Homo sapiens: one gene and its partners. The protein of the gene in region 7 purifies or fractionates together with the protein of the main gene of each other region. This does not show direct contact. Each region holds a gene or a part of one and is shown on either strand. Other genes may lie near its edges.

What was found.
Region 1: the proteins of UMPS (region 7) and ALDH5A1 fractionate together in Homo sapiens (co-fractionation; one large-scale study listed by BioGRID). This does not show direct contact.
Region 2: the proteins of UMPS (region 7) and AASDHPPT fractionate together in Homo sapiens (co-fractionation; one large-scale study listed by BioGRID). This does not show direct contact.
Region 3: the proteins of UMPS (region 7) and GNPDA2 fractionate together in Homo sapiens (co-fractionation; one large-scale study listed by BioGRID). This does not show direct contact.
Region 4: the proteins of UMPS (region 7) and NAMPT fractionate together in Homo sapiens (co-fractionation; one large-scale study listed by BioGRID). This does not show direct contact.
Region 5: the proteins of UMPS (region 7) and HMBS fractionate together in Homo sapiens (co-fractionation; one large-scale study listed by BioGRID). This does not show direct contact.
Region 6: the proteins of UMPS (region 7) and GLO1 fractionate together in Homo sapiens (co-fractionation; one large-scale study listed by BioGRID). This does not show direct contact.

What each region holds. Positions count from the first base shown.
Region 1 is NC_000006.12:24,529,015-24,533,331, reverse strand, and holds part of ALDH5A1 (succinate-semialdehyde dehydrogenase, mitochondrial isoform 2 precursor), read right to left. Parts: intron 1,214-4,317; coding exon 1,155-1,213; intron 1-1,154. UniProt on the Homo sapiens protein: Catalyzes one step in the degradation of the inhibitory neurotransmitter gamma-aminobutyric acid (GABA).
Region 2 is NC_000011.10:106,080,418-106,084,734, reverse strand, and holds part of AASDHPPT (L-aminoadipate-semialdehyde dehydrogenase-phosphopantetheinyl transferase), read right to left. Parts: intron 1-4,317. UniProt on the Homo sapiens protein: Catalyzes the post-translational modification of target proteins by phosphopantetheine.
Region 3 is NC_000004.12:44,719,422-44,723,738, forward strand, and holds part of GNPDA2 (glucosamine-6-phosphate deaminase 2), read right to left. Parts: intron 2,822-4,317; 5' UTR 2,787-2,821; coding exon 2,663-2,786; intron 1-2,662. UniProt on the Homo sapiens protein: Catalyzes the reversible conversion of alpha-D-glucosamine 6-phosphate (GlcN-6P) into beta-D-fructose 6-phosphate (Fru-6P) and ammonium ion, a regulatory reaction step in de novo uridine diphosphate-N-acetyl-alpha-D-glucosamine (UDP-GlcNAc) biosynthesis via hexosamine pathway.
Region 4 is NC_000007.14:106,260,536-106,264,852, forward strand, and holds part of NAMPT (nicotinamide phosphoribosyltransferase precursor), read right to left. Parts: exon of another isoform or gene 3,131-4,317; intron 3,083-3,130; coding exon 2,857-3,082; intron 1,173-2,856; coding exon 1,053-1,172; intron 1-1,052.
Region 5 is NC_000011.10:119,090,712-119,094,613, reverse strand, and holds the end of HMBS (porphobilinogen deaminase), read right to left. Parts: intron 3,202-3,902; coding exon 3,088-3,201; intron 2,490-3,087; coding exon 2,451-2,489; intron 2,211-2,450; coding exon 2,091-2,210; intron 1,857-2,090; coding exon 1,803-1,856; intron 1,680-1,802; coding exon 1,593-1,679; intron 1,505-1,592; coding exon 1,331-1,504; 3' UTR 1,065-1,330; downstream 1-1,064.
Region 6 is NC_000006.12:38,696,076-38,700,392, forward strand, and holds part of GLO1 (lactoylglutathione lyase), read right to left. Parts: intron 1-4,317. UniProt on the Homo sapiens protein: Catalyzes the conversion of hemimercaptal, formed from methylglyoxal and glutathione, to S-lactoylglutathione. Involved in the regulation of TNF-induced transcriptional activity of NF-kappa-B. Required for normal osteoclastogenesis.
Region 7 is NC_000003.12:124,736,181-124,740,497, reverse strand, and holds part of UMPS (uridine 5'-monophosphate synthase), read right to left. Parts: intron 2,931-4,317; coding exon 2,259-2,930; exon of another isoform or gene 2,055-2,258; intron 475-2,054; coding exon 299-474; intron 1-298. UniProt on the Homo sapiens protein: Bifunctional enzyme catalyzing the last two steps of de novo pyrimidine biosynthesis, orotate phosphoribosyltransferase (OPRT), which converts orotate to orotidine-5'-monophosphate (OMP), and orotidine-5'-monophosphate decarboxylase (ODC), the terminal enzymatic reaction that decarboxylates OMP to uridine monophosphate (UMP).

The DNA of each region.
Region 1 (4,317 bases), on a different chromosome or scaffold from region 7:
AAAGTCACCTCTTGCTTCAATTCTACTCTCACTATCTCCTATCGAGACCCTCTTCCTGTTTTCTACTATTCAATCCACCTGCACACCTGTTAGATTTCCACACGACATTTTTGCCCAAGCCTTTCGATGACTCCTGATTATAAAATAAGGTTAAATTCATTAGTGGGTATTCAACACCCTCTCCCCCACAAGTAGTTTCAATCAACATTTCTGGCTTCATCTTCCATTACTCCAATCACCAACCATCCTCTCCAAACCTGTCAGCCAAATTCTCCTCACCCTTTCTTACTTTGCTTCTCAACTCCCTTGGTGCCCTCTGCCCAGAATCTCTCTCCTCCAGCTTCTGCACAACCAGAATTCTGCCCATCATTTATGACCTAGTTCAGGGTACGTCTTCCTCCACCATCACCCCATCGAGAAGGAAGAGACAAATGCTGAACTCAGTGTTATAAACGTCCTTGTGCACACATCTTACTCCAGCTTTACGATAACTCTAAGGGACCTCATAGCATGCTTATCATTCCTCTTGGTATAAATAGTTCTCTTACAGCTAGAGGGGAAGCTTCTATAGAGCTATAGTGGCATCTTGTATGTCTTTGTATCTTCTGCAGTACTTCATTTGCTGTGGATGCTATTACATAATTTTCTCAGGGTTATAGAGTACATGCAGTGACCACCTGGCCCATCTCCAAACTAAAGGAATGTCAGCCATCAGAGAGGCACCTCTGCACACACCATCTTCACTCCTTTCATTGTCCCTGACACTCCTTGCTGATGCCCTTCCTCTTCTGTTCAGGCTTACAGGAGCCACGCAAAAGGGAAGAAAAAGCATTTGGAATTTCTGGGGATTAAGCCTCTGAGAATGTGGGACTTTGAGATGTGTGCAGTTCTCCACCTAGAAAAGTAGAATAATGTGCACCTTCTCTTCTTCCCACAGCTGTAATTAGAGAGCTCCCAAATGTGTATCATGGGGACAAGGGAAAAGTACACATACTTGCACAAATCCAAATCCATTCCACCACTTGGAAAGCAACAAAACACATACCTCATTGAAGTTTCTGTCTCAAAACCCAGGGTGATGTTTAAAAGGGTAAATCTGGCATGAGCTGGAGAAAAATGATTATGACTGGTATTGAACAAGGACAAACACCTACCTGCTAACCCAACATCAGCTGCGTTAGCGATTGCTATAGCCTCCTCCTCTGTATCGAACCTGCCAAAGTTAAGATAGGTCATAAAAAATGTAAGGGGGAGAGGAAAGGAAACCAGTTTTGTTTTCTTCTGATTTGTTTCCCAAATAATCACAAGGAGTAAATCAGAGTTTTGCAAAGAGATCCAAGAGCAGATTGCAGAAGAAAGCAGCACCATTCCCCGATATAACTCAGCGATTAAGGCTAGCATGCTCAAATCAATACTGGCTTCATCTCTCCTAAGAGAACAAGAAAAAAGCAGACCAACATGTAGGGAACTGTGGCATATCCAGAATATCAAACAAAATCCCTTTAAAAAAAAAGGATTACTATTCTTGGTACCCACTGGGAATATATAACAATCATAACAACTACTTTAGAAGCAAGCCTGATGTAGCAGAAAGAAAACGTTCAGAAGGGGTTGGGGCCAGGTTCTAATGTGTCCTCCACCACTGCTTAACAATGGCACGATGCTTGGAGTCTCCTCCTCTCTGAAATGAAGGAATGCACCAAAGCCCAGGCCATCTCTTCTAGCTTTAAAATTTTATTTCAGGAATAAGATGTCAGTGATATTTTTCTGTTGTTCCAGAATTGTAACTGGGGCAAAAAGTTCTAAGCACCCCAATTTCTAAATTCAGAGATCTACCAGCAGTTGGAACCAGCTGTCTCTCTGCAGGGCTTGCAAAGGGGGACTGGGTAGAGCCAGCTCCGAAAAGTCAATTTGTCCAAGGGTACACAGTTATGAAGTAGCAAAGTCTAGAGCTACATCATAGTCAACTGCAAAGCCTGCATTCTCAACCAATGCCTTCCGTTGGTTTCCTGTGAAAATGTCCAGTTCACATTTTATGTAAAAAGTTTTTATTAAAACAAAGAAGATGAAAGTTCTTCAAGGGTCCATTTCCCCAACAGTGGAATAAAAATAAACTTCATAAGCAAGATGTAACAAGGCCAGTGAAGTACATAATAAGAAAGATTTCTGGTCCTGGATAAGACGGTACAGATAGCACCAGCTGCCAGCTGTCTCTGTGAACCCAATGCTGGACATGCCAGAGGACAGAGAAAGAGAATCATAGTCAAAACCAACAACAACAGCAACAAAACCTCAATCGGAAACTAGCACCAAAAATGCAAGACATTTCTGGAGGCCAATAAATTGGTTGGATCCTGGGGGAGAATGATGGCCTCACGTGAGAGCGAGCTCGAGACCACCCATGCAGGAGTGGGCAGGGCAAGGGCAGGGCTGCACGTCTCCTACCACGCCTGTGAGTTCCAGGTGATCCTGCCTACAAACCTGGGTCCCTGGATCAATGCGACATTGCTACAGGTAGAAAAGCAGCAGGGCTGGCTTGGGGCAGTGAGCCAGTGCTCGTGCCCAGCAGGTACACCAGCCATGGGAAACAAGTGTAGGCAATGGCAACACCAGCAGCCTCTTCTCCCCAACCTATTCCAATAGAGGGAACTGCAAAATACCCCAGCGGAAAGGATACTTGGGGTGGAGGAGTGGCACTGAGACTGGATTTTAACACTAGAGCCATCCTCAGTGAGGCTCAACCCTTTGCCCTCCAAATGTATGAGGAGCACAAACCAAGGCCTAAGCTTTTTACCACAACCCATGGGAGATATTACAAGCCAAGGCTGCCGACGGTGCAAGGGGTTAAAGATGAGCTCACAGGGAAAATTACAAGATGTCTGAGGAGCTCTGAGACTAAGAAAGATAAAGCAGCACAACCTATACCACGGGAGACAGAAATGGTGGAAGAGAATAAAAATGTTTTTTTTAAAAAGGAAAAATAGCCACAGCAAAGTAGGGGAGAATAATGAAGCAGGAAGAATCAGTTATGGGGAAGAACCCACTGGAGATATCAGGGATGGGAAAAACAATTGTTGAGATAAAGATCTTGGTGGGTGGGATGGAAGCCAGAATGAGTATATCTGAAGAATGCATTAATATGCTGGCAGATGAGGGGAGGGACTCGCAGAAGGCATCAGGAATGAATCAGGAATGAAGAGATGGAATGAAGAGACAAGAGAACTAGGGCACAGAAGTAGAAGTATCACAATAATAGACTACTTGGAAGGCTAGAAAAGCATAAATGAAAGGAAGAAGAATATCTGGAAAAATAATGACAAAAAATTTTCCAGGACTAAACAAACCTGTTAGATATTAATGAGCTGGGCATGGTGGCTCACGCCTGTAATCCCAGCCCTTTGGGATGCTGAGGCGGGTGGATCACTTGAGGTCAGGAGTTCGAGACCATCCTGGCCAACATGGCGAAACCCTGTCTCTACTAAAACTACAAAAATTAGCAGGGCCTGGTGGCGGGCGCCTGTAATCCCAGCTACTCAGGAGGCTGAGTCAGGAGAATCGCTTGAACCCAAGAGGCAGAGGTTAAACTGAGCTGAGATCGCAACACTGCACTCCAGCTTGGGTGACAGAGCGAGACTCCATCAAAAAAAAAAAAAAAAAAAAACCCAAACCAAAACAAAAAAACCGTATTAAAGATATTAGGACCTCAACTGAAAAACCTCACTGTGTGCCATACCAGATAGTAAAATTTAAGAACATCAAAGATCAAGAGAAATTCTAAATGTTTCCAAAGAGAAAAAATAGATTTCTTTCAAAGAAGCAAGAATCAGATTTCTTGGCAATAACCCTGGATAAAAGTAGATAAAGAGGCCGGGCGTGGTGACTCACACCTGTAATCCCAGCACTTTGGGAGGCTGAGGCTGTTGGATCACTTGAGGTAAGGAGTTTGAGGCCAGCCTGGCCAACATGGTGAAACCCTGTCTCTATTAAAAGTATAAAAATTAGCCAGGTGTGGTGGCACATGCCTGTAGTCCCAGCTACTCGGGAGGCTGAGGCAAGAGAATCGCTTGAACCCAGGAGGTGGAGGTTGCAGTGAGCCGAGATCATACCACTGCACTCCAGCCTGGATGACGGAGTTAGACTCCATATCAAAACAAAAAACAAAAAAAAGAAAAAAAAAGTGGATAAAGGAGTAATATCTCCAAAGGGTTGAACCTAAAATTTTATCCAGGTAAATTATTATCTACTTGTGAATGGGAGATAAAAGACCACAAAACGACACAGAAAGTTCATGTCCTATGGAGGCCAATGAAAGAATCC
Region 2 (4,317 bases), on a different chromosome or scaffold from region 7:
TTGCTTGAACCCAGGAGGCAGAGCTTGCAGTGAGCCAAGCACCAATGTACTCCAGCCTGGGCGACAGAGCCAGACTCTGTCTCAAAAAAAAAAAAGATTCTGCTATATATATTTTTCTATGATGTGATATTGGCTGGGCACAGTGGCTCACACCTCACGCCTGTAATCCTAGCACTTGGGAGGCTGAGGCAGGCAGATCACTTGAGCCCAGGAGTTCAATACTAGCCTAGGCAACATGGAGAAACCCTGTCTCTATTATAATATTAAATATATATATATTCTAAGTCCCTTCAGGTTCATATAGACCTAACTAATTCTTTTATTACAGCTAATAATTATCTGCAGAATGCATCCACCATTAATTTATTTAACCAATTTCTATTAGCAGCATTCAGGTTTTGTTGTTATTCATAAATATTTTGGATAGAGTACTATAAACAAGATCGCTAAATCAAAGACTATGTGTATTTTCAATTTTAACATTATTTTCCAAAAAGCCTGTAGCAATTTCTAGTGTTTCCATCTATATGATTGTTCTTTTCCGACATTTTCACAAGCTCTAAGTGTTTTTTTTCCAATTTTCTGCAAATCTGATGGGCACCTCACTGTTACTTTAATTTGCATTACTCTAATCATTAAGGTAATAGCTTACTGACTGCTTGAATTTGTTCTTCTGTAACGTGCCTATTAATATTTTCTAATCACTTCATAGAAGCTCTTTATATATTATGGATATTGACACCTTACCAAATTTGTTATAAGAATTTTCCTTATTCTATTATTTATCTTTTGTATTTGGTTATATTTTTGGAATATAATTTTTTTAAATTTAAATATCCATTCTTTGATAAATTCTGAACTCTGTCTCGTTTGAAAAGAATTCATAAAAAGATTTACTGCAACTCGACATCATAGTCAACTATATTTTGTCCTAAAATTTTAAACTTTTTTATTTTTAAATTTCTAATTCCTCCAAATTGGTGTATATAGTATGTGTTACATCCACATGACTAACCAATTCTACCAGCACCATTTAATAAATAATCTTTTATCCACTGAATTGAAATATGTATATATCCTGGGCTCTAAGATTAACTCTTCCAGTTGTCTATTCTTTCGCTAGTACCATACTCTTTTTAGTTTACAATGACTAACACAAGTTTTTGAAACTGGTAAGGCAAGACCCTTACTATATTTTTCATATTCCTAGTCATTAGTTCTTCCATAACAACTTTAAATGTATGTAACCCAGTTTCACAGAATTTTTCATATTTTGGTATCTGCAAATTCTTTTAATAGGAATCAATAAAATCTCATACTGAGAGGCCATATACTGTAGAGAGCAGTGGTTAAATATATGAAGTTTTACTTTTTAGCTAAGTCAACTTGGACAAATGTCTTAACCTTTTATATAAAATAACAGTAGTACTTACGCACTAGTCTTACAAAGATGAAATAATACCTATTAGGCATCTAATATAGTGTCACACACTTGTAGGAATTGCTCAATAAATACTAGTTACACAATCAAATCCTACTGACAAAGGAAAAAGACCGACCTGTAACTGGGAAGGAGGAAAACTCCTTGAGGGTGGAGACTTGGTTTTCCAGTAAGGAATTCAGAGTACAAAGTGATGTGTGAGTTTCTAAAACTACTTACAGGTTTTAAATCCCAAGTGCATTTAAAAAAAAAAGTCCAGCAAAGTTTATTTTAAAAATGTAAAGACGAACATGTAAAACCATAGGGGGAAAATTCTGGTCCTTTCCCAAATTTCAATCATAATTTTTATGTATTTTGTCTATTTTATTTTGCCTTACTTTGTAAATATGGTCACAAAACTAAACAATTCAAAAGTTACCCTTTATGCTTATCACTTCAAACACTTTTAATGGTAGAAAAAATTAGAAAACAAAGGGAAAACCAACCAAAATTTTCCAAAAGAGGGTAATAAATTAAGATGAAGACCAGGAAAACACCATTCTTCCTAAGAGTAAGAATGTACCGTCCTGGCATATGGTAGGCTATATACTAGGTATGTTCTCTCCTGCACGTCCACAGCAACAGTTGGGAGAACAGGTAGAGGGAGGGAAATGAGCTGCACTCAGCAGAAATGGTTAATGCACCATGAAAGAAAAAGACTCTCTGAGTTCCTAGTGGATTCTTACCTATAGGACAAGACAGAGTAATGGAATTGACTCTTTCAATGCACTAATGATAACCCCCAAAAGCCAACTCTGTCTTTAGAGTTGGCAATCTAGTAACAATGCCTAGTACAAAACAGAGTACTTTCCTTGCTGCTCTCCTAAGTTTTGCCTAGCATCATTTAGCAAGACTCTTAGGAAAAATCCCTTGCTCAATCTCCTCACTTACTACAATAAGTAGAGCAATTCAAAGAATCTCCAATGAAGCAAATCAGTGTCTACTTCCCATCTTCATTAAGAAATCATGCTGTGTCCATTGATGCTTCAGGAATCAGTAGCATGGTAACAACACTAGTGACAATTGGAAAATCTCTCTTCCTTTCTGTGTTACTGGACATAGCAACAGCTTTTTCACAACAAAATAAAGAAAAGGAAAAGGCCTAGACATTGTGATTAGTCAAGTAAGATCAACTAAAAAAAACTGGTGGGGGGAGGTCTAATAACACAATTAACAGGAAAACTAAATCTTAAATTTTTGCTCAATTGTCTTTCCATCATTTATTTTTCTTTTTTATTATTATTATTATTATACTTTAAGTTCTAGGGTACATGTGCACAATGTGCAGGTTAGTTACATATGTATACATGTGCCATGCTGGTGTGCTGCACCCATTAACTCATCATTTAGCATTAGGTGTATCTCCTAATGCTATCCCTCCCCCCTTCCCCCACCCACAACAGTCCCCAGAGTGTGATGTTCCCCTTCCTGTGTCCATGTGTTCTCATTGTTCAATTCCCATCTATGAGTGAGAACACCATCATTTATTAAAAGCTTCAGTTATTAATTACTTGTTTATCTAGCATTGACCATAGCCAACACTGCCCATCAAGTTAACTGGTAACAAAATCTGTTTCTCAGAAGTATCATTTCCAAGCAGATACCAACCCACTGGGCCAATTATTACCAGGTAGTTGTGCTGACTGCATTCTAAAAAACAATGGCCTTTCCATTTCTGATTTTAGAAAAAGTTCCTGTAATGACAGCAGAAAGCTACAAGAATATATGGGCTAATTCCCATGCTAAGAATCCTCTATAGCAGCAATTTTTTTAGAGTAAGCCACCTATGTCCCTGTTGAATACCAGATCCTTTCCCAAGAAAAATGCACATGTGCATATCATACAAAATGTAGCATACAGTTTCAGGAGGTAAACAAAATTCCTGGAATCTTATCCAGGGAATCAGATCAACAATCTGTTATAAGGTTTCCAAAATCACTAGTAGGGCCTTGTTCTGAACAAACCTGAGAATAGAGTTGTACTGGAAAGGTTTATTAGCAGGTAAGAGAAAGAGTAGCTAGTAGGAAAATGCAAGGTAAGGACAATAAAAGCAAAAGGGAGAAGAGATTCACAACCACACTGAAGCCTATACTCTAACAGCACAGTGTTTATTCATTCATTTGACAAATATTTTACTATTACATGCTAGGCAAGGTACTAAGAGATGTGATAGTGATCAAACTCTGATGTGGCTAACATGGTTCTTGCTCTCACACAGCTTTTAAGTATCAGGAAAAGATAATCAATCATCCTGATGAATAATCAACTGAGATACATTACTGGAATAAGGAAAATATATTTTATGAGAACCTACAACAAAAGAACCTAGCTTAGATTGAAGGCTCACAAAGCTTCCCTAAAGTAAGGTTAAGGTGAAATCTAACAAGTAAATAGGAGTTCTCTATGCAGAAATGGGAGTGAGAGATAAAATTAATACAAGCCTTACAGACTGAGAGAGCCACATATTCAAACCACATATGGTGCAGGCAGTATGGAGATTAGATAGTTTTACTATGAAATTAGGAAGATGTGGGTTCTTTTATTAATAGCTTTCTTCTTAGCCTGTTACTTATTTTCTTTAAAAATAGCAGTATATGCATCATAGGGTAGTTGAGAGAATTAAATCACAGAATATGTCTAAAGCACTATGTAAAATGCCATGACACGTGGTTAAGTGTTCATTAAATGTTAGTGATGATGACAAATATACAGCAGTTAAGAGAACCTGTATTTAGTATGTATTAAATTGCCTGGGTACATTCAACTTCACCACAAATGTTAGTGGTCCTTAAAGCCACCACTAACAAATTTCTAAGGCAATATATAAGCAACTTAAA
Region 3 (4,317 bases), on a different chromosome or scaffold from region 7:
TTTGAGATGTCAGAATAGACAAGGCTATAAATAAATACCACACAGCAGAAGAAAAAAAGATTTTCTAAAAGCTAAGCACATATGTTGTTTTCAATTACAATTATTAATTTAAAAATTATGTAGTAAAATTTTACGTTTCTCAACAACTATAGCCCACTAACATGAAACCTGTCTAAAAGATGGATAAATATGCTTTCCCTCTTCCTTTCTCGAAGGATAAGTGAATCTCTTCTCTCTTTTAGTGTCAAGAGATGAGTTATAGGAGTCTCTCAATTTAAGGATATATGAATAAAAAGGTGAGCTGTCACAATGGAGGTGACAAATTCATTTTCTATTTTGTAATCAATGTGGCCAAAAAAAAAGACTGAAGAAAAAAAAAGAACTGGTTAAAGAAACTTAATTTTTATATTTGCTTTGTAATAGTCATTACTAACACAATTTAGCAAGTACCTACTATGATTTATATAAAACAAAGATTAAGACATTTTCTTTAAGAACTCACAATATAGGGATAAGCAAGTACAAAATAACCATAACACAGGAAAAACATTATAAATAATCTAAAAGAAGTCTGAGTATTGCAGAACATCAAATAAAAAAGACTACAATCTTGCGAGTTGGAAGAACAATAAAAGAAAATGGCATTTCAATTCAGTCTTGATTAAGGGATACACTTTCAACAAAGAGGAAACTAACTCAGAGCAGAGAAAAGATGGAGCGGGAGGTTCAACGATGACATCTGTCTACCATGTGGCTAGATGCTGCGCTAATGTTTTTATATATTACCTCACATAAAGCTCACAATCTTGAGAAACTGGCATTATCTTTCCCATTTTGAAGACAAAATAACTGGGTCAAAAAGATTAAGGAATTTGCCAAATGTCATATGGCTGTGAAACCAGGGATTCCAATCTAGATAGGTCTGGTGCCAGAGTTCATATAGATTCCATTAAATAACATGCTAGGAATATGAGTGAAAGCAAAGCAAAGCAAAGCAGCCAGCAACTTCAAGCCTATTCTTGAACTGCAAGCAGTCAAATATGCCTAGCCCAGTTCTGTGTAAGGAGATGGTGGGAATAAGTTTTGGGAAGCAGATCAGGTTCACAGCATGCAGGCCTTTAAATGTCAAGCTCATTAAGGTCACGTGAGTAAATATAAAATTGAACAGATATTGCCCAGAAATTGCGCTTGATAGGGAGATAATTACAATGCAGCCTGGTACAAGCAATTACCGACATGTATGTTCAAGTCTCAGAAGCAGTGGGGGAAGAGGACATAATTAACTTGTCGATGGTCAATGAAGGAGAGTAATGGAAAATTTCAACAAGGTTTTCCAGAGATCCTCACTTGGCAGGTATATTACTAGCAGTTATACTACCCAAAATAAAGCAAACGTTGTAGATCTAAATACACAAAAAGATGTTTAGCACTGCTGACATTTAAGACTAAGTCTTTCTGTCCCCACTCAAATTACTGTTTTTTTCTGCATCATAATTAACACAATGTTATTAACAGAGGTAGGCTGAGTGTAATGAAGGGTAACAGTATAGAAACTATACAGAAACCACGTTCAACCCCAAGGGGTCACATATCAGAACTGAGGGTGCTGGGGGTGTAGTACTGGTGTGTCCAGTGAAAAAAAAAAAACCCTTTTGCCATTCTCACCAAGATCTACTGCCCTGGACCAAAAGAGAAAAAGCAAAACAAAACAATCAACTTGAAGAGTACCATTCACGGAAATTACTCAAGTGGGAAAAAATTACAATTGTAGTTTTTATGTAATTACCATGTATGAGGGGAGGAGCTGGAGAAAACAGTCTGTTTAAATAAAACACACGGGAACTATAAATTTATAGACTACAGTATACAAGGGACTTACACATACACTATCTTAGCTGAATCTCAAAACAGCATCTTAAGTTATTATCCTTATCTTTCTTATAGGTAAGGAAACCAAGGCTCAGGGGTATAGAACAAATGCCTTGTAGTCAATAAGGAGCAACTTTAGTTCCAGGTCTAACACTCTGTGAAAATCATGGGTCAAATAAAGTGCCATAAGATCAAATGACACCACCTAGTCGTTTTTTAAGAGAATGCTTAATGGAAAACTGAATTCAATAAAATATGTAATTACTGTGATGAAGATATATTTTTCACTTGTAATACATCTATAATAGAAGAAGCAAATAGTAAAAGGCTAATAAACATTATATAATATATAATTTATAACTTCTATATTAATAAGGATTTATAAGGCAGGTGAAGTTAAATTAAGAGGCAACAGTACATACCTTAGGTACCTCTTAATGATTAATAAGAAAGCCAATCAACTAAAAACTGGTATGAATGGTAAAAGCAATGTTCCCCAAAACAAAGGACTACTAGAAAAATGTACAAAAAATATGAACAACACTTAAGTTACAATATTTCCTATTGCATTTTGGAGTGACAGGTGAGACTAAATTTTGGCACAAGAACTAGTAACACATTGTAGATAGTAGATTTTATATATATGCATTTTTCTGGCCTTTTATACTATGATGTTCAATTAGTGACATGCCAATAAATGAATGGGGAAAGTATCTTAAAAGAAACCCTTCAATTCCATCAGAATTAAATTTAGATAATATCAGAATATAAAATGGAAAAAGTAGTTAATTACCTGTTGGTAAACCCAGTGTAAAATATCTGTCCTGTCCAGGTTTGAACTGAATGATGCGATTACAGATGTATTTGGCTGCCCATTCACTAGCCAAGTCATAGTTATCAAGAATTACAAGCCTCATTACGGTGACGCACAGCTTCCAGAACAAGTTCAAACCTGAGAAAAGTCCATTGTAGAACACTTTACATAATAAACAGATAATTTAAATTCAGTAACTTTTTAAAAGATGTAAATAATAAATAGAGCACTGAAACAGAATATACTGATGATTTTTAAAAGTACATTACTGAAGAAGGACATGCACATATACAATCTGAATTTAAAAAATAGTAATAGCTGTTCTCTTTTGAGCAGACACTGAGTTTAAGGCAGTGGGCTAGGTCATTTAAGTATAGTTAGCCTTCTGTGGATTCCATATTCGAGGATTCAGCCAACCAAGAACTGAAAATATTTAGGGGAAAAAGATGTTTGCATCTGTATTAAACAGGTACAGACTTTTTTTTGTCATTATTCCCTAAACAATACAGTATAACAACTATTTACACAGTATTTACATTGTATTAGGTATTATAAGTAATCTAGAGATAAAGTATATGGGAGTATGGGTGCAGGTGATATGCAAGTACTATGTCATACAATATGAGGGACTTAAGCATCTGTGGATTTTGGTATCTGAAGGGGGATCCTAGAATCAATCCCCAACAGATACTAGGGACAAGTGTACATATTTTAATCCTTACAACCATCTTGTGAAGTAAATAAAATGCCCAGTTATAGATGAGGAAATGGACTCACATAATTTGACTAAGGTCACACAGGTAGTAAGCAACAAGGTCAGAATTCAAATTATAACAATAGGATCACACTAGACATGTTATTTTTAATAAGAGAATTCAACAGAAGAAAAAGAAAACAAAGTGAACTAAATAAACTGCTCATCTCTGGAGGAGAAATTTCTTGACAAAAAGCAATTTTAGTTCCTCAAAAATTATTCTAAAATTAAGAAAAATTATTATACGTATATTAAGAGATCGGAGTCACTTAAAAGCTACATAATTCCATTTTACACAATGTAGGTTGACTTATACCATGAAAGATGTGGAAATCAGCATTCTTACAGTAACTCACAGCTTCTGTTATCTGTAAGACATATTGTTTTCCTTTTTTTTAAAAAAATGGTATAAATTTAAGGGGTACAAATGCAATTTTGTTACATGGATATATTATTTAGTGACTAGGTCTGGGGTTTTGGTGTATCTATCACCTGAATAATGTACAATGATCCTAGCAATTTCTCATCATCTACCCACTCCTACTCCCCAACCCTTCTAAGCCTCTAATATCAGTCTACTTTCCATCACCACGTGTACACATTATTTAACTCCCACTTGTAAGTGAGAACATGTGGTATTTTTCTTTCTATTTGGGAGTTGTTTCACTTAAGATGATGGCCTCCAGTTACTGCAAAGGACATGATTTCATTTTCAATGGCTGAATTTCGCGGTGTATATATATACCACATTTTCTTTATCCAATCATTCACTGATGGACACTCAGGTTGATTTCTTATCTTTGCTACTGTTGTTATTGGAAGGAAGGTCATGAGTGTGAGGTGTCCAGTTCCTTGGCATTTTGAACAAAGAACTGCACAA
Region 4 (4,317 bases), on a different chromosome or scaffold from region 7:
GTAGCACTTTGATTTTTCTTCAAGAACTTTTCCTTTGCATTCACAACTTGGCCTACTGTTTGCCTTAAGAGGCCTATTTTAGCTTTCAGCATGCCTTCCTCACTAAACTTAATCATGTCTAGGTTTTGATTTAAAATGAGAGGGATGTGACTTTTCCATTCACTTGAATACTCAGAGGCCACTGTGGGGTTATTAATTGACCTAATTTAAATACTGTTGTGTCTCAGGGCATAGGGAAACTTGAAGTGAGCAGAGAAAGGGAATGGGTAACTGGTGAAGGAGTCACAACACACACAGTATTTATCAATTAAGTTCACTGCCTTATCTGGGTGTGCCCTGTGGTGCCCTAAAACAATCACAGTAGTAACATCGAAGATCACTAATCACAGATCACCATAACAGATATAATGACAAAGTCTGAAATATTGTGAGAATTTACCAGTATGTGTCACACAGACATGAAGTGAATACATGTTGGAAAAATAGCACCAACAGACTTGCTCAACACAGGGTGGCCACAACCTTCAATTTGTAAAAAAATGCAATGTTTGCAAAGCACAATAAAATGAGGTACGCCTGCATAACACTTATACTATCTGGCTAAATCTAATACTGATGACAGTCAATGCTTAATTTAGAAGAGGTGGCAGCTATTCTATAATTTCTGAAAAAGCACCCATTAATATTATGAGTTTTACAGATTTGTGAAGCTCCAGTCTATGAAAACTCAGACCTATGCCAGCAGAGTCAAGGCTTTGTTTTATATTCCAAGGAATATTTCTTGACTGACATTTCCTTGTTTCACAATGATACTTCTTTAGATTCATCATTCAGGGTGGCCAATGACAACTGGAAGAGTAAGTATGGCTTGGCTGGCACCTCTGTATTTTAAACTACTATTATTTCTAAACTTTAAGCAATGCACAGAGATTTATACCAACATAAACACTTACAAAGACTTAAAATTGTATTTATATTGTGTTCTTTATCAAACATAAACAAACTTAATTATAAGAAATGCCTTATTGAAACTTTTAATATAAAACACATACCTCTTGTAAGGTATTAATATCTACTCCATCCCCTTGAATAACTCTAAGATAAGGTGGCAGCAACTTGTAACCCTTTGAGTTCTCAGTAACAGGAAACTTCTTACCTAAAATCTCCAAAACCTATATGGAAAAATACACATGCAACACAAATAACTAAAGCTGAAAACAAGTATAAGAGCTTTTCAAAGTTAAATGATTTTGCTTTGATAATCGAGAATATAAAAATTAACTACTTTAAAAATTTTATAACACTATGTATATGCTCTCTAAAATTTGGTCCAGTGTACTTTAAAGGGTTAAAGTACATTAAAAACAAGCATGTTATTTCCTATGAAGTGAATTCACATCATAAAGTGGCTCAAAACAAGTTTTTCCCCTTAGACCTTTCAAATTATATGGATTCAAGGAAAAAAAAATCCTTAATATTAAATAAGTATATTTTAAAGAAGTATATAAAGCATTATTTAACAAACTCATGATTATACTTTTAATTTGGACTTATTCTGCTTGTGCCCAATGACTTTGGTTTTTGTCTGATATATAACTCCAATATGAATCCAGTTCAATCACAAAGTTCAGAGAAACTGTGAAAGGCAGACACAGCATCTAGAACCCATAGTCTCTAAGTTCTCCTTTGCTCTTAAAGCCAAACTGCACAATACACAAATCATCTTACTCATTCACTAACTACTAAAAGTTTTGTACACCAAATTAAAATTTCTCAGAAAGCTTGGTCATATAAACAAAAGAAATACATTCTCTTCCCACAACAATCATTTCTTTTTCCTAAATAAACTGATTAAAGATTCTAACAAAGAGAAAATTCCCCATTGATGAAATCAGTTTCTCATAACTAGCTGTGTACATTTTTTATTACGTAACAGTAAAAACATGAAACCTATCAAGTTTGCTAAAACCAAATATTGCAGGCTAAGACAAGACTTTCAGATTGGCCTATCATTTAATAGAATAAGAAAAGACCTCCTTAATTCTGTTTCCCTTTCTTAAGGGGTAAGTATCATCTGCTCATTAACTGACAAATGGTGTGGTCAAGTAGCAAGGCTGCAGCCAAAAGACCTACACTGGATATCTGACTCCTTATCTTTCATGTTGTGTGACCTTGAGCAAGTTACTTTAACCTTTTTAAGCCTCTGTTTTTTTCTTCTATAACAGAGACAGTAATATTTATCACTGTTTTTTTTTGTAGAGATTAAATGGCGTATCTTATGTAAATCACCTAAAATATTTTTCTAGTAGTAGGCATCAAATAAGCCTGCTATTACTACTTTTTGAAGAAGATAAACCAAGTCCTTGAACATTAACAACAAAAAGTAACACTGCTACATTATGAATCAACAGTATTTCTAAAGAACCTCCACTTGAAGAGTATTTTTGAATTATTTTTATTCCACATCACCCTGTTCCTATTTCTTCTGTGCTAACAACTTCAAAGGTCTAGCAGTGACTTATGCTGAAAAAGAAACAAACTGCAAATAAGTTTGGTGCCCAAATCATAGGATTAATTAAAATGGCAATGCTGTTAATTAATTTTGCAGGTAAGCAGAAAACAAAATATCTATTCAAATGTCTAATTGACAGTAAAACAATCCATAAGTCTTGGTATCCTTCTGTGCTATTACTGTGTGACCTCAGGCAAATCTATTACTCTCTCTGGGCTGCAACTCTAAAATAAAGGGGACTGGTCCACACAGCTCTGAAATTGTGTGTATATAAATGAAAAGTAGTATTGATGCAGCTGGCCTACAGAGGGATTCTAATAATAAAGTTACATATGAAAATTTACCTTTAACACAGTGTCAAGAGGGTTTCCAGAATCAGGTCTGATTATTAGTGGTGCCTGTGTACTTCTTGATACTATTAAATGTCTTAGATCTTCACCCCATATTTTCTCACACGCATTATAAATGTCATAGCTATCGCTGACCACAGATACAGGCACTGATGAAAACTGTGTTACAATATGTTCAAAAGCATCTTTTTCATGGTCTTTCCCCCAAGCTGTTATGGTACTAGAAAAAAAAATGAAAACACAGATTTACTTAGGCAGACACTTGATCTATCCCTGAATCACCTTTAATCATATCTCATGTTTACTATACCAAACCATCAACATCACAGAGAAGGTGAGTGACTTAGTTTAATGAATATACATCGTAAGGCAAATGAAGTAGCTGGGTCAACCATACCTTACCCAATTAGTTTTTAACGCTTTAAGTAGCCTTACTCCTCTTCAATGGTTAAGTTTCTAACCTCGTATTTTCAACCAATTATCTGTGTGTGTGTGTGTTTTCTGGTATTCCTGAATCTACTCATTTAAAATCAGTCTAACTAAAAAGCACTTGCTGAGTGCCCTTTATACTGTATGTCAAGATGTTAGAATGAATACATATTTCCATTATTTTGTTAGGCAATGAGAGCACCTGGCTCCCTTCTGTGAATTTTTGAAACTATATACCAATAATAGTACAGACATACATTTTGTTTTTTTACCTTTCAAAATCTTATACTTAGAGGCAATTATTTATACTATACCATACATACATATAGTCAACTACCTGTTATATTTTCAAGTGGCTAGTAATAGGAAGTCATGTATTTTGTTTGCAGATTATCTACTACGAATTAATATATGCCCAGGGAATAAGAATTCAAATACTTAGTTTAAGCAAAACATAATTAAGATGGAAAATAAAGTATGAGAGTTTCTATTGGATAAGAATGGTTATAGTGATTTTTGCAATGTCCTTAATATCAGTTCTTACGGGATAGATTTGTATTCAATATGTAATTATAGATTGGGTATCGCTTATTTGAAATGCTTGGGACCAGAAGTATTCTGAATTTCAAATTTTTTCAGATTTTGGAATATGTGCATTATACTTATCAGTTAAGCATCCCCAGTTCTGAAATCTGAAATCCAGTTCTGAAATCTGAAATGCTCCAATGAGCATTTCCTTTGAGCAAAAAGTTTCAGATTTTGGAGCATTTTGGATTTGGGATGCTCAACCTGTGTAAATATTTGTTAATATATAATGTAAATAATTTTAAAAGATCTCAAACAACTTAATTTTGAAAATTACCATTTAATTATGCCAAGCAATTGGTCATTCTCCCTAATTTTCTAGTCCGCCTCTAATCTGTTCTCCTCAGTAAATAATAAAAAGATAGCACATTCATTTATTATAAAGCCCAAGTAGGTATAAGTTTAACTCATAACTGTTTGAAGAGTCAGACTTTATGTCTG
Region 5 (3,902 bases), on a different chromosome or scaffold from region 7:
CACCTGCCCGCCTCGGCGTTCGTGACTCAGCCGCCCCATCCCGAGTCGCTAAGGGGCTGCGGGGAGGCCGCAGCACCTTCTGGAAGACTTGGCCTTCCGCTCTGACGCAGGGCCGAGGTGGGCAGTCCAGGCCGAGAGGCCGGCGGCCCTGAAGGTGAGTGAGGCCCTCGGCAGCTGCAGCCGGGGTGTCTGGTACCCCCCCGGCGTGGTGCTTAGCCCAGGACTTTCAGACGCGGCCGCTGGCCGGGAGGCTTTGGTGGGAGAGACGCGATCGCCGATTTCGGTCTGGCGCCCCTTCTGCGGCCGGGACCCAGGCCTTTCACATCAGCTCTCCCTCCATCTTCATTCATAGGTCTGCGCTGGGGCCGGGACGAAGCACTTGGTAACAGGCACATCTTCCTCCCGAGTGACTGCCTCCTAGGAGGACATTTAGGGGAGGGCAGAGGCCTGCAGTTTGGCTTCACGGCTGGCTATGTGGACAGCAAGAGTCGTTTTCGCGGAAGCCGACTGGCAGCCAGGCCTGTCGGGCCCCCCGACGCCGCCCCATTTCCCTTCCAGCAAACTCAACTCGGCAATCCAAGCACCTAGATACCAGCACAAGTCGGTTAATCCCTGTCTGGACTGAGCCTCCGTTGGCTTCTGAACTGGAATTCTGCAGCTAACCCTTCCACGACTAGAACCTTAGGCATTGGGGAGTTTTAGATGGACTAATTTTATTAAAGGATTGTTTTTTTTTTAAATGGAGCGTTTGTTTTCATTTTGCAAGAGAGTTGTAGAATTAGTGACTTTCTATACTTTCCTGATAATAGGGGTGGGAGGGGCCATGCAATATAAACAGGCTCTACTGTTAACTGAAGGGGCAAACCATAGGAATTTAAGATTGTGGCTCTGTTTCTTGGTGTTCCTGGGAGACAATTTATTCTGTGTGAAATGAAAACTATTGAGGCAGAAGCAGAAAGGACGTACCAGGAGAACTCTGGGCAAAAGTCCCAGCCTCTGAGGTAAGGATGAAAGGGCTTTGTGTTTGTTCCTATCTTCCCGCCAACTCCACACGCGCACACACAACACCTTCAGAACTGGTTTATTAGTAGGATTGGTTACATTCAAAGGCTGTTGCTTGGACTTCTCTAAAGAGATGAAGCCCCCACATACTGAGGAGGCAAGGCAGTCATCAAGGCCCCAAGGTGAGGCAAATCCCTGGAAGGCTTGAACCCTGCAGTTCAGTCTCCCGGGGTAATCACTCCCCAGATAGCAGTGAGAATGGGGCACTGAGGCCCGGGATGTAGGCACTGGACAGCAGCAACCCAGGCATCTGTGCCCCACAAACCAGTTAATGGGCATCGTTAAGCTGCCGTGCAACATCCAGGATGTTTTTGGCTCCTTTGCTCAGCAACAAGTTGGCCAGGCTGATGCCCAAGTTCTGGGCAGCCAACTGGGGCCCTCGTGGAATGTTACGAGCAGTGATGCCTACCAACTGTGGGTCATCCTCAGGGCCATCTTCATGCTGTATGAGGGAAGGAGGTGGGATTTGGTGAGAACAAGAGATTATATGCACTCTTGTTTATTACCCCCTCGCCCTCCAGCTTTGGTACCTGGGCAGGGACATGGATGGTAGCCTGCATGGTCTCTTGTATGCTATCTGAGCCGTCTAGACTCCAGACTCCTCCAGTCAGGTACAGCTGGGGAAGAAAACAGTTGCCTCAGCACAGTCTGAGAGGGGACTACCTAGAAACCTGGGATGCACAGGAAGAAATGCCACAGTCCTCCTTTCCCTGGCTTCCCGCCCATTTCCCCCCACTTACTTGCCCATCCTTCATAGCTGTATGCACGGCTACTGGCACACTGCAGCCTCCTTCCTGTAACAAGAAGTTCTTGTGAGCTGCAAGGGCTCTTAACACCACCCTGTGACCACAGACCTGAGGACATCACTGAAAAGGCAACTGTGGGCCCAGACCTGGTCCTATCCATACACAACATTCAACAAGAATGAGTTAGCACTGTATACAGAGCATTCATGTAAGAAATCTTCCCTGCCACCTTTCCCAGCTCTCCAAGTCCCCAGCCCTCCACAGGTGGAGCACAGGCCCTACCAGGTGCCTCAGGAAGGCCCTTTCAGCGATGCAGCGAAGCAGAGTCTCGGGATCGTGCAGCACACCCACCAGATCCAAGATGTCCTGGTCCTTGGCTCGCACTTCCACGCCCAAGGCCCCCTGATGGAAAAACATCCTAGGACATCAGGCCTGATCTTTCCCCAACCAATGGCGCAAAGCATGGGACCACCTCTATCTACTTGCTCCCCAGCGCCTTTTGGACCGGTAGCATCCCAAGGTCTGCCCCTCCCTGAGAATGCTATTCTGGGGAAGCAGATGCAGAAGGTTGTGAGACAAGCTTCTTGGTTGAGAACAAAGGGAAGGCATATGTCACCATGTGGCTTCCCTGGTCAAGTGTACCTGGCCCACAGCATACATGCATTCCTCAGGGTGCAGGATCTGTGGAGGCGGAACAGGGAGTCAAAAGGGTGGACACGGGGGTGTCTAAAAGCACCTGGCAGTGAGATGGGAGTTCCCTATCATCTAGAAAGCCTGGGTAGGCCTAAGTGTGAGTCTGGCCTCTTTTTTTTTTTTTTTGTAAATTTTCTCCATGAAAGCCTAGAGTCTGGCCTCTGATTCACAATCTTCCCAGCCTACGGTGTTAGAGGTGGGGTGGTCAAGAAGTGAAGACAGATGGTCCTTGACTTACAATAGGGTTACATCCTGATAAACCCATTGTTAAGTTGAAAACAAGCTGAAAATGCATTTAATACACCTAGCCTACCTTACATGTGCTCAGAACACTTAAGATTAGCCTATTATAGTTGGACAAAATCATCTGACACCAAGCCTGTTTTACAATAAAGTGAATATCTCATGTAATGAATACTGTACTGAAAGTAAAAAACAGAATGGCTGTATGGGTACTAAGTACAGTTTCTACTGAACGTATATCGCTTTCACACAATCATAAAGTCTAAAAATCCTAAATTGGGGATGACTGTAAGGCAGAAAGGAGATGCAGATGAGCTGGGGAGAGGATAGGGGCAGGCCCTACCTGCCCCACCCGGTTGTGCCAGCCCATGCGCTGCAGGCCAGCTGTTGCCAGGATGATGGCACTGAACTCCTGCTGCTCGTCCAGCTTCCGAAGCCGGGTGTTGAGGTTTCCCCGCTGTGGAGAGTTGCTAAGGACCACAGTGTCGGGCAATCTGGGGCCTCGTGCGGTTCCCTCTGCCTGAGTCTGTCTTTCCCTCTCTAGCTGGCTGACTTTCAGTCATCTTCCAGCTCTCAGCTTAATGTTAACAGCTAACAGTTACATCATACTTACTACATGCCAGACACTGCTCTAAAAGTACTTTCCATATGTCAGCTCATTTCATCTTCACAACAACCCTGTGAGGAAGGTAGTATTATTATCCCCACTTTACAGATAAGGAAAATGACATAGGGAGGCTAAATAACTTGCCAAGGTTACAAGACCTCTGAGAAACCTTCCCTGACACCCCAGACTTCTGTGTTTAGATGTTCCAACTAGAAGTTTCCAGAAAATTCCCAACTTCACTTATTGGAGCACTTAGCACATACTATTTTTAAATTTAGTTTTATGAAATGTACTACATATTCATTGTAAAAGTCAAGACAATATAGTAGCATATAAAAATGGAAGTACTGACCGGGTGCGGGGCTCAAGCCTGTAATCCCAGCCCTTTGGGAGGCCGAGGCTGGTGGATCACCTGAGGTCAGGAGTTTGAGACCAGCCTGACTAACATGGTGAAACCCAGTCTCTACTAAAAATACAAAAATTAGCCAGGTGTGGTGGCACCTGTAATCCCAACTACTTAGGAGGCTGAGGCAGGAAGATTGCTTGAACTC
Region 6 (4,317 bases), on a different chromosome or scaffold from region 7:
GAAAAGTATGTCTACTTCATCTTGTCAGAAGCAGAGTCTCTAAATGAATTTTATACAACTGCCTCCCACAATGGGATATGAGTGTATTTGGTTACAATATGTCTATTTTCAGGATGAATCAAAACTGGTCAAAAAGCTACAACAATGATAAAAACGTTGTTTGACTTTGTGTTTTCTCCCTACAAAATCTCAAATTTGCTTCTAGTGATGAAGATACTTATTTCTCTAGAAGTATTACTAGAGAGCTTTGTAAGAGGTTACATCTTAAAGTTAAAATCTCCATTGCCTCTTATCTTAGTCCATTTAGGCTGCTGTAACAAAAATTCCATAAACTGGGTGGCTTATAAACAACAGACATTTATTTCTCACAGGTTTGGAGGCTAGGAAGTCCAAGATCAAGGCACTTGGAGATTTAGTGTCTGTCCTCATAGATGGTACCTTTGCACTGTGACCTCACATGGCAGAAGGGCTTGATCATTCTTTACAGTCTCTTTTATAGGATGCTAATCCTAATCATGAAGACTTTGTCCTCATGACCTACCTAATCACTTTCTGAAAGGCCCCACCTCCTAATACCTGCCTCAGGGATTAGGATTTCAACACATGAATTTTGAGGGGACACAAACATTCAGACCATAGCACCTTTATTACCCTCAGTCTGCAGAAAGGAGAAGTTCCACACTTGCATTAGCCATATTTTCAGAAATTAAAAAATTTCTCTGGTTTAAAAAATGTTGTCTTTCGACCTTAATAAGACTGAGACCAATTCCCTTTAGAGACTATCTACTTTGTCTCTCAAATAACTTTCAAAAGTGTTATATTGCCCCCAACAGAAAGCCTTCTTCTTTTTTTTTTTTTTTTGAGATGGAGTCTCACTCTGTTGCCCAGGCTGGAGTGCAATGGCACGATCTCGGCTCACTGCAACCTCTGCCTCCCAGGCTATTCTCCTGCCTCAGCCCCCTGAGTAGCTGGGATTACAGGCACGCGCCACCATGTCTGGCTAATTTTTTTGTATTTTTAGTAGACACAGGGTTTCACCATGTTGGTTAGGCTGGTCTCGAACTCCTGACCTCATGATCCACCCACCTTGGTCTCCCAAAGTGCTGGGATTACAGACGTGAGCCACCGGGCCTGGCCCAGAAAGTCTTCTTAAGGCTCAACTAAACATCCAGACTTATAAGACAACCATAGCCATAGGCCATACATGGTGCCAGTTTACTCAAAACGGTATCTGTTAGGAAAACACAGATTGCCAACAAAGAAGTATCAGGTGTTCCTCTTCAGTGGGAGTCCTTACAGGAGTCGACACAGATCAGGTACAGGGAGAAGATTCACACTGGATATGAATGAGAATCACCCTAGGGCAGAAGGCCCCATGTACCACAGGAGCCAGTATCTCTAGTAGCAACTCCATAGGCAGAACTTCTAGAATTTCCACAAGGGACAGTTATAAGAGTCACTACAATCAGGGAAGTCCAAAGCTATGGCTTCCTTTCAAGTATTTACAATTCTCCCTCTCCAGATGCAATTTACCAATTGGGTTATTTTTACCATAAGCAACAAACACAATTTTTCATTGTTTTCTGGGAAACTAGGGAGTTAACGAAAAGTCAAATTTTCATAAAAGGGGAAAGGGTTTGTTAACTCTTTATTACTAGGTGTCACATCTCCCACAAAACAAAAGTGAACAAAGTGGTTTTCACCAGACTTTTAAAAATGAGCTTTTCAACTGCCTTCAGTGTATCTTGAGGAAAGCAAGAAGTCCTCACTACTTCCTGCCTAGACAATTATCTCTTTGCTTTTCATAGGCTTATCTACATGCAATTTGGAGTGATCTTTCCATAAAGAAAACCCTGTCATGTCATTTTTGGCTTAAAAATCAATACTTCAGTGGTTCCTCAACACATTTGAGAGACAGTCCCAAAAGCAACCACATATGTAGCTGCATACTTCTCTAACACCAACGGTTATCACCACTCCCCTAAACCGGTCATCTCAAACATTTTCTATTTCATACCCTTATCACTTAAATAGCAACCATTACAGGGTGAGAAAAACAAATGAATATAATGGGAATTCTCATCTTTTCTTTGAGTACCCTAATGATTGTTTTGGTCACCCTTCCCTCAAGTCCCACTGCTTATAACTTCATTCACTGTGTTACCCGTAGGTCCCTGCCTCAGTTCTCTGATGTCATTATGCCTTTATATATATTATGATTCTCTATGCCTTGAATAGTCAGCCATTTATCTGGCCATTGTCCTTCTTCCTTCCTCCTTTCCATTCCCTATTCTCCTTTCTACTGCATTCAATTCCACCAATCTACCTGATTGGAGAGGGACCCCATCATATATATATATATTCATATATTTATAGATATATTTATATATTAATATATATTAATTTTTTATATTTTTATATATTCATATATTTATATATGGAACGATGTGAAAATGGACATTGGCAGTGGTGGTAGAAATAATGGCAACACTGAGGACATTGTCTACTGTATTAGTGGAGACAGATACAGATAGTAAAAAAGAAAAGATCTCCAGATCACTACTTGGAAGGAGAACCTGACCTTTTTTTTTTTTTTTTTTTTGAGACGGAGTCTCTCTCTGTTGCCAGGAGAATCTGACCTTTTAAAGAAAGTTAGCCCAGAGAGATTGCCCAAAATGTGACATAGCCATACATTCTCTGGACTTCCTTTATAATGAAGATGCAAATGATCAAAAAACAAGTCGACTTTGTGCCATTGCTGCTGTCTTCTTTACAAACGAGACCCTCATATCACTTATCTCACCTTCTGGAAGAGCTTTTTAAGTGGCCTAATCACCTCCAGACTTGGATCCCTCCAATCTACTTTATAGAATACTTCAAAACCCTGACTCATTCCCCACTATGTATATAAAATCTAACTTCCTTAGATGTGACACTCAAAGCTGTCTCCACAATCTGGCCCCAACCTACCATGTTAGCCTCTTCCACCACTGCTTAGATAACCTGAACTGCAACCAATAACATTTAACTAACTCTCCAGTACCTGCCCTGCATTGCAATTCTACCATCCTAAAACTGTTGTGGGAAGTCAGGGACCCCGAATGGAGGGACCAGCTGGAGCTGTGGCAGAGGAACATAAATTGTGAAGATTTCATTTTAATATGGACATTTATCAGTTCCCAAATAATACTTTTATAATTTCTTATGCCTGTCTTTAATCTCTTAATCCTGTTATCTTCGTAAGCTGAGGATGTACATCACCTCAGGACCACTGAGATAATTGTGTTAACTGTACAAATTGATTGTAAAACTGTGTTTGAACAATATGAAATCGGCGCACCTTGAAAAACAACAGAAAAACAGCGATTTTAGGGAACAAGGGAAGACAACCATAAGGTCTGACTGCCTGAGGGGTCGGACAAAAAGAGCCATATTTTTCTTCTTGCAGAGAGCCTATAAACGGACGTGCAAGTAGGAGAGATATTGCTAAATTATTTTCCTAGCAAGGAATATTAATATTAATACCCTGGGAAAGGAACGCATTCCTGGGGGGAGGTCTATAAACGCCCGCTCTGGGAATGTCTGTCTTATGAGGTTGAGATAAGGACTGAGATACGCCCTCGTCTCCTGCAGTACCCTCAGGCTTACTAGGGTGGGGAAAAAACTTCACCCTAGTAAATTTGTGGTCAGACCGCTTCTCTGCTCTCGAACCCTGTTTTCTGTTGTTTAAGATGTTTATCAAGACAATACGTGCACTGCTGAACATAGACCCTTATCAGTAGTTCTGCTTTTGCCCTTTGCCTTGTGATCTTTGTTGGACCCTTATCAGTAGTTCTGCTTTTGCCCTTTGCCTTGTGATCTTTGTTAGACCCTTATTAGTAGTTCTGCTTTTTGCCCTTTGAAGCATGTGATCTTTGTACCTACTCCCTGTTCTTACACCCCCTCCCCTTTTGAAACCCTTAATAAAAACTTGCTGGTCTAAGACTCAGGTGGGCATCACAGTCCTACTGATATGTGATGTCACCCCCCGGCAGCCCAGCTGTAAAATTCCTCTCTTTGTACTCTTTATTTCTCAGCTGGCCAATACTTATGGAAAATAGAAAGAACCTACGTTGAAATATTGGGGTGGGTTCCCCCCGTATCAAAACACATTTTTGCTAAGATGTTTCCTTCATCAGAATGCCTTCCCATGTACTCTGCTGGAATCCTACCCAATCTATCAAGGCATAGGCCCATCACCACCATCTTTTTGATGTGTGCCCTGATCCCCACAGCTGAAATACAACCTTGAATTGTATCACTCTTCATAGTTTAGAG
Region 7 (4,317 bases):
AAAAAGACATTATCTTAAAGTCCTGGTAGATTTAGTAAGTGTTTGTTTGACTAACTATCTGGGTCTCAAAGTTTCTCTTGGAGTATAATTCAAATTCCTGAAGTGTCCACTACATGATATAAAATGCTATTAACTATCAAGGAATTCTATCCAACTAGTATTAATATACTGTCACACTAACAAGAGCTGGATTTTTTTTTTGGCAGAGGTTCCAGAAACGCCAGATTAGGAGATATCTTCTTGCAGCATGCAGCATAGCAGCCCCTGCCCCCTCTCACCCAGTCCCCCCACCACTTACCGCTGCTCTAGTGTAGTCCCCAGTGGCCAGGGAGCCGGTGGAGCTCATTTCCGCAATAAGGAGGCACCCCCGATGCAAAGGCAGGCCCACTTCTTGCAGGCCTTTCACAACTCCTGAGCCTGGCACCACGTGAGCATTTACTAGATCTGCCCAGGAAGCTATTTTAAAGATACCTCCTAAGAAGAAGGGGGAAAAAAGATATTTGCTGATTTTCAAACAAAACCTCTAACGTCTTGTCCAACCAACCAACTACAATATGAAATAATCTCCCAGTAACATGTTAATGAGAGAATCAAAACTCTTCAGGAACTTTAGTGATTATCAGCAGACCCATGGTTCCATCTGTGAAAACTGTATCTGTTATTCAGGTAAGTAGCTGGGTGAGAGATCACAATGAGAAAAAACTTTCAAGGTCTGCACTTGGCTTATCTGGAACACTAACAGGACTCTTTTTCCTTGAAGGCTGAAGCTCATGACCACAAATAAAGCTCATGCTATTAGAAAGGGACTCCAGTGAAGATAAACATTTATTGATGTCAAGGATAACATTTAAAAATTCCTCTTGAAGCTGGGCATGGTGGCTCATGCTTGTAATCCCAGTACTTTGGGAGGCTGAGGTGGGCAGATTGCTTGAGTTTAGGAGTTCGAGACCAGCCTGGGCAACATGGCAAAACTCCATCTCTACCAAAAATACAAAAAAATTAGCTAGGTGTGGTGGCGCATGCCTGTGGTCCCAGCTACTTGGGAGGCTGAGGTGGGAGGATCACTTGAGCCCAGGAGGTGGAGGTTGCAGTGAGTCAAGATTGCACCACTGCACTCCAGCCTGGGCGACAGAGCAAGACCCCATCTCAAAAAAAATAATAATAAAAATAAAATTCTTCTTGAAGATGACAAGTTTTCACTCTGCAGGGGTCTCTCAGCAGCTTTACTATCGCTCAATATTTCTACGTGTTCCTTAGATCTCCTTAGCTATCTAATTTCAATAGGCAACTATATTCCTTTTAAAAGCGGACAGTAACAAGCCTGATTTTCGAAAAAACTCTATGCAGAGCTGAAGAAAGTTTGTATAAAACTCTTATGTCAGTCAATCAGCTAAAGTAAGCTAGGCAATGTGATGAGGGCAGGACATCTTAAGCACATGAAGAAGTCACTTAAAGACAAATCTATTTTAAAGAAATAGCTTATGAACATGCATACATTAAAGAAAAGTTACCTCAAAGATGCCTACAAAAAATGTTATATGACACAACCAAATATCTGTTACCAGGTTAAGTGAAAAATGCATTAAATATAGTCTGATCACACAGTTGTAAAAACATAGACAGAAATTTGCATAGAATAGGCAGTAGAACTAAGCATTTTTCTCAACCAACACATGCACTACTTTGAGTCCCTATTTGATAAAAGAAAAATCTTTAAATAATGTTTATCAATAGAACTTTTTCTGCTACAAATAAATCTTACCATTTTATATTTCTTTTTCATTGTTTCCTTTATGTGGAATTTTCATTCAAAACATCATATTCTGCCAAGGACATCTGTCAAATTTGCTTGCCCAGGCACATACCCTTCTTCTGGTACTAGCACATCCATTTTCTTTAAGGAAATTATCCCTGACTGGTTCTTATTTCAAGAAGGTCATACAGAGTTAACAACCTCACAGTTGCAGAGCAAATTGCCCAGGCTAGTTAATGAAGGTATTCTACATCCCAAGCTAGAGTGATTGGTTTGGGGTGAGCATGCAGAGTATGCCTACCTGAGAAAGAAGTCAACAGAGAAGAAAGCAGAGCTGAGAGATGGAGAGAAAGCAAGTCATGAAGATATCACTTGAGCTCCTGGATCCAACCACGCTTGACAGCCTGCTCTATGAATGGACTTTCAATGACATGAGCATTTCCTTTTTCTTCTTCAGTTTAAGCTGGATTTCTGATTCTTGCAGATTCCTGAATAATACACTTACCTTCATACTGCTTTTTCACTGTGTTTCCTATATCTGCAAACTTCCGGTCTTCAAATATCAAGAACTCATGGCATTTTGCCAGAGTTATCAACTCCTTCATCACATCCAGAGTAAAATCATTCAAAATATCTACATGAGTCTTCAGCATGCAGATACTAGGTCCTAAAGCATCTGCTAGCTGCAACAGCTCTCTGGCCAGTGAAACATCAGCAGATAGACACAGATTGGTCTCCTTCTTTTGCATAAGCCTGAGAAGCTTCGATGCAACTGGGTGGATCCTGGGCAGCTCTGCACGTGCACCGAAGCTGAGTTCTTTGGGTGCTTCCTTTATAGAAAGGGGAGAACCATTATGATTCGCTGCCACAAAGACATTCTCCTGAATAAACCTCTTCACTCTCCCAACTGTCTCAGCATCAACTTTTTTCTGCTGCTCGAGAATCTCCAGCATTTTGGACAATGTACACACTGAGTGGAGGCGGATCCCGTGCGCCTGCAACTTGTCCTTGCCTCCCTGCTCTCTGTCCAACAGCACTATGGCATCAGTGACCTTCAAGCCCTCCTTCTGAAGAACCTCAACAGTTTCCAAAACACTAGATCCACTGGTGACAACATCTTCAATGATTAAACAGGTTTCTCCTGGATTAATAGTTCCTTCTACAAGACGCTTAGTTCCTAGAAAAGAAAAAATTTTGCTGATTCCAAATTTAAATATGTATGTATATGTGCGTATATACGTACACACACTCTGTATACAAAACTTGCCAGTTACACATACAGTATATGTGTATACCAATTCTGTATACCAAACTTGCTAGTTGCACATACAGTATATTTATGTATAAAGCCAACTCTGTATACCAAACTTGCCAGTTACACATACAGTATATTTATAGTAAATCAAGTAAATTATTTCACATTATAAACACTGCTTAATGTGTTTTATGATCAAATTTTCAAATAGAGAGGTTTTTTTTTTACTTTAAAAAAATCTGTTTTATCATAGAGATGAGGTCTCACTATGTTGTCTAGGCTGGTCTTGAACTCCTGAGCTCAAGTGATCCTCCCGCCTCAGCCTCCCAAAATGCTAGGATTATAGGTGTGAGCCACCACGTCCAGCCTAAATACAGAGTTTCTTACAGCAAGATCACCTAGATCAAGGAAAGTTATGAAACAGAATAATCCAGTATCATGAATGAAATAATTCCTTTTTCCATCAAAGTATTTTAAGTTCACTATTCAAGATCAGCCAAATAATTGACTTTTTGAAGACACAAATTCAGAAGGAAAAATATTCAGCAATCATTTAGACCCATTACTACAATCTAAAGAATTATATAATGCAATGTGATTAAATATATACTTCTCTACCCAAATCCCACTAGACTATTTTCAGATAATCTACAAAACGTAAATAACTTGGGCTGTAGACTTTAGACTCATCAAATCCTTTCCGCTTCTTGAACAACTGGTAAGTTTAACTGAATCAGCTTAAGCTAGAACACAAGACTGCAAGTATTTATAGTATATTTAAAAATGCATAATTTCATAGAAACAGTTTTTAAAACATAAAATAATAGAAATAAGAGTTTTCTTATGGGTAGGGATTCATACAGTTTTTTTTTAGCTCAGAAAGTCTCAGCTGGGTGCAGTGGCTCACACCTGTAATCCCAGCACTTTGGGAGGATGAGGCAGGAGGATGGCTTGAGACCAGGAGTTCAAGACCAGCCTGGGCAACAGAGTGAGACCTTGTCTCAAAAAAACAAAAAACAAAAACAGAAAAACTAACACTGCCCTTACGCCACAAAAACTCAACTAATATGTTTCTTTTTTTTAATCATAAAAATTTTCAGAATGCATCTGTAGAAGAAGGATTTGTTTTAAAAAAAGTAACAAAACACTAATAAACCAACATAAACAAAAAAGCCCATTAATTCCTTACTATCATTAAGATTGCTTTTCAGGTTTTATTTATTTATTTTTTGACAGTCTTGCTCTGTCACCCAGGGTGCAGTGCAGTGGCATAATCATAGCTCACTGCAACCTTCAGCTCCTGGGCTCA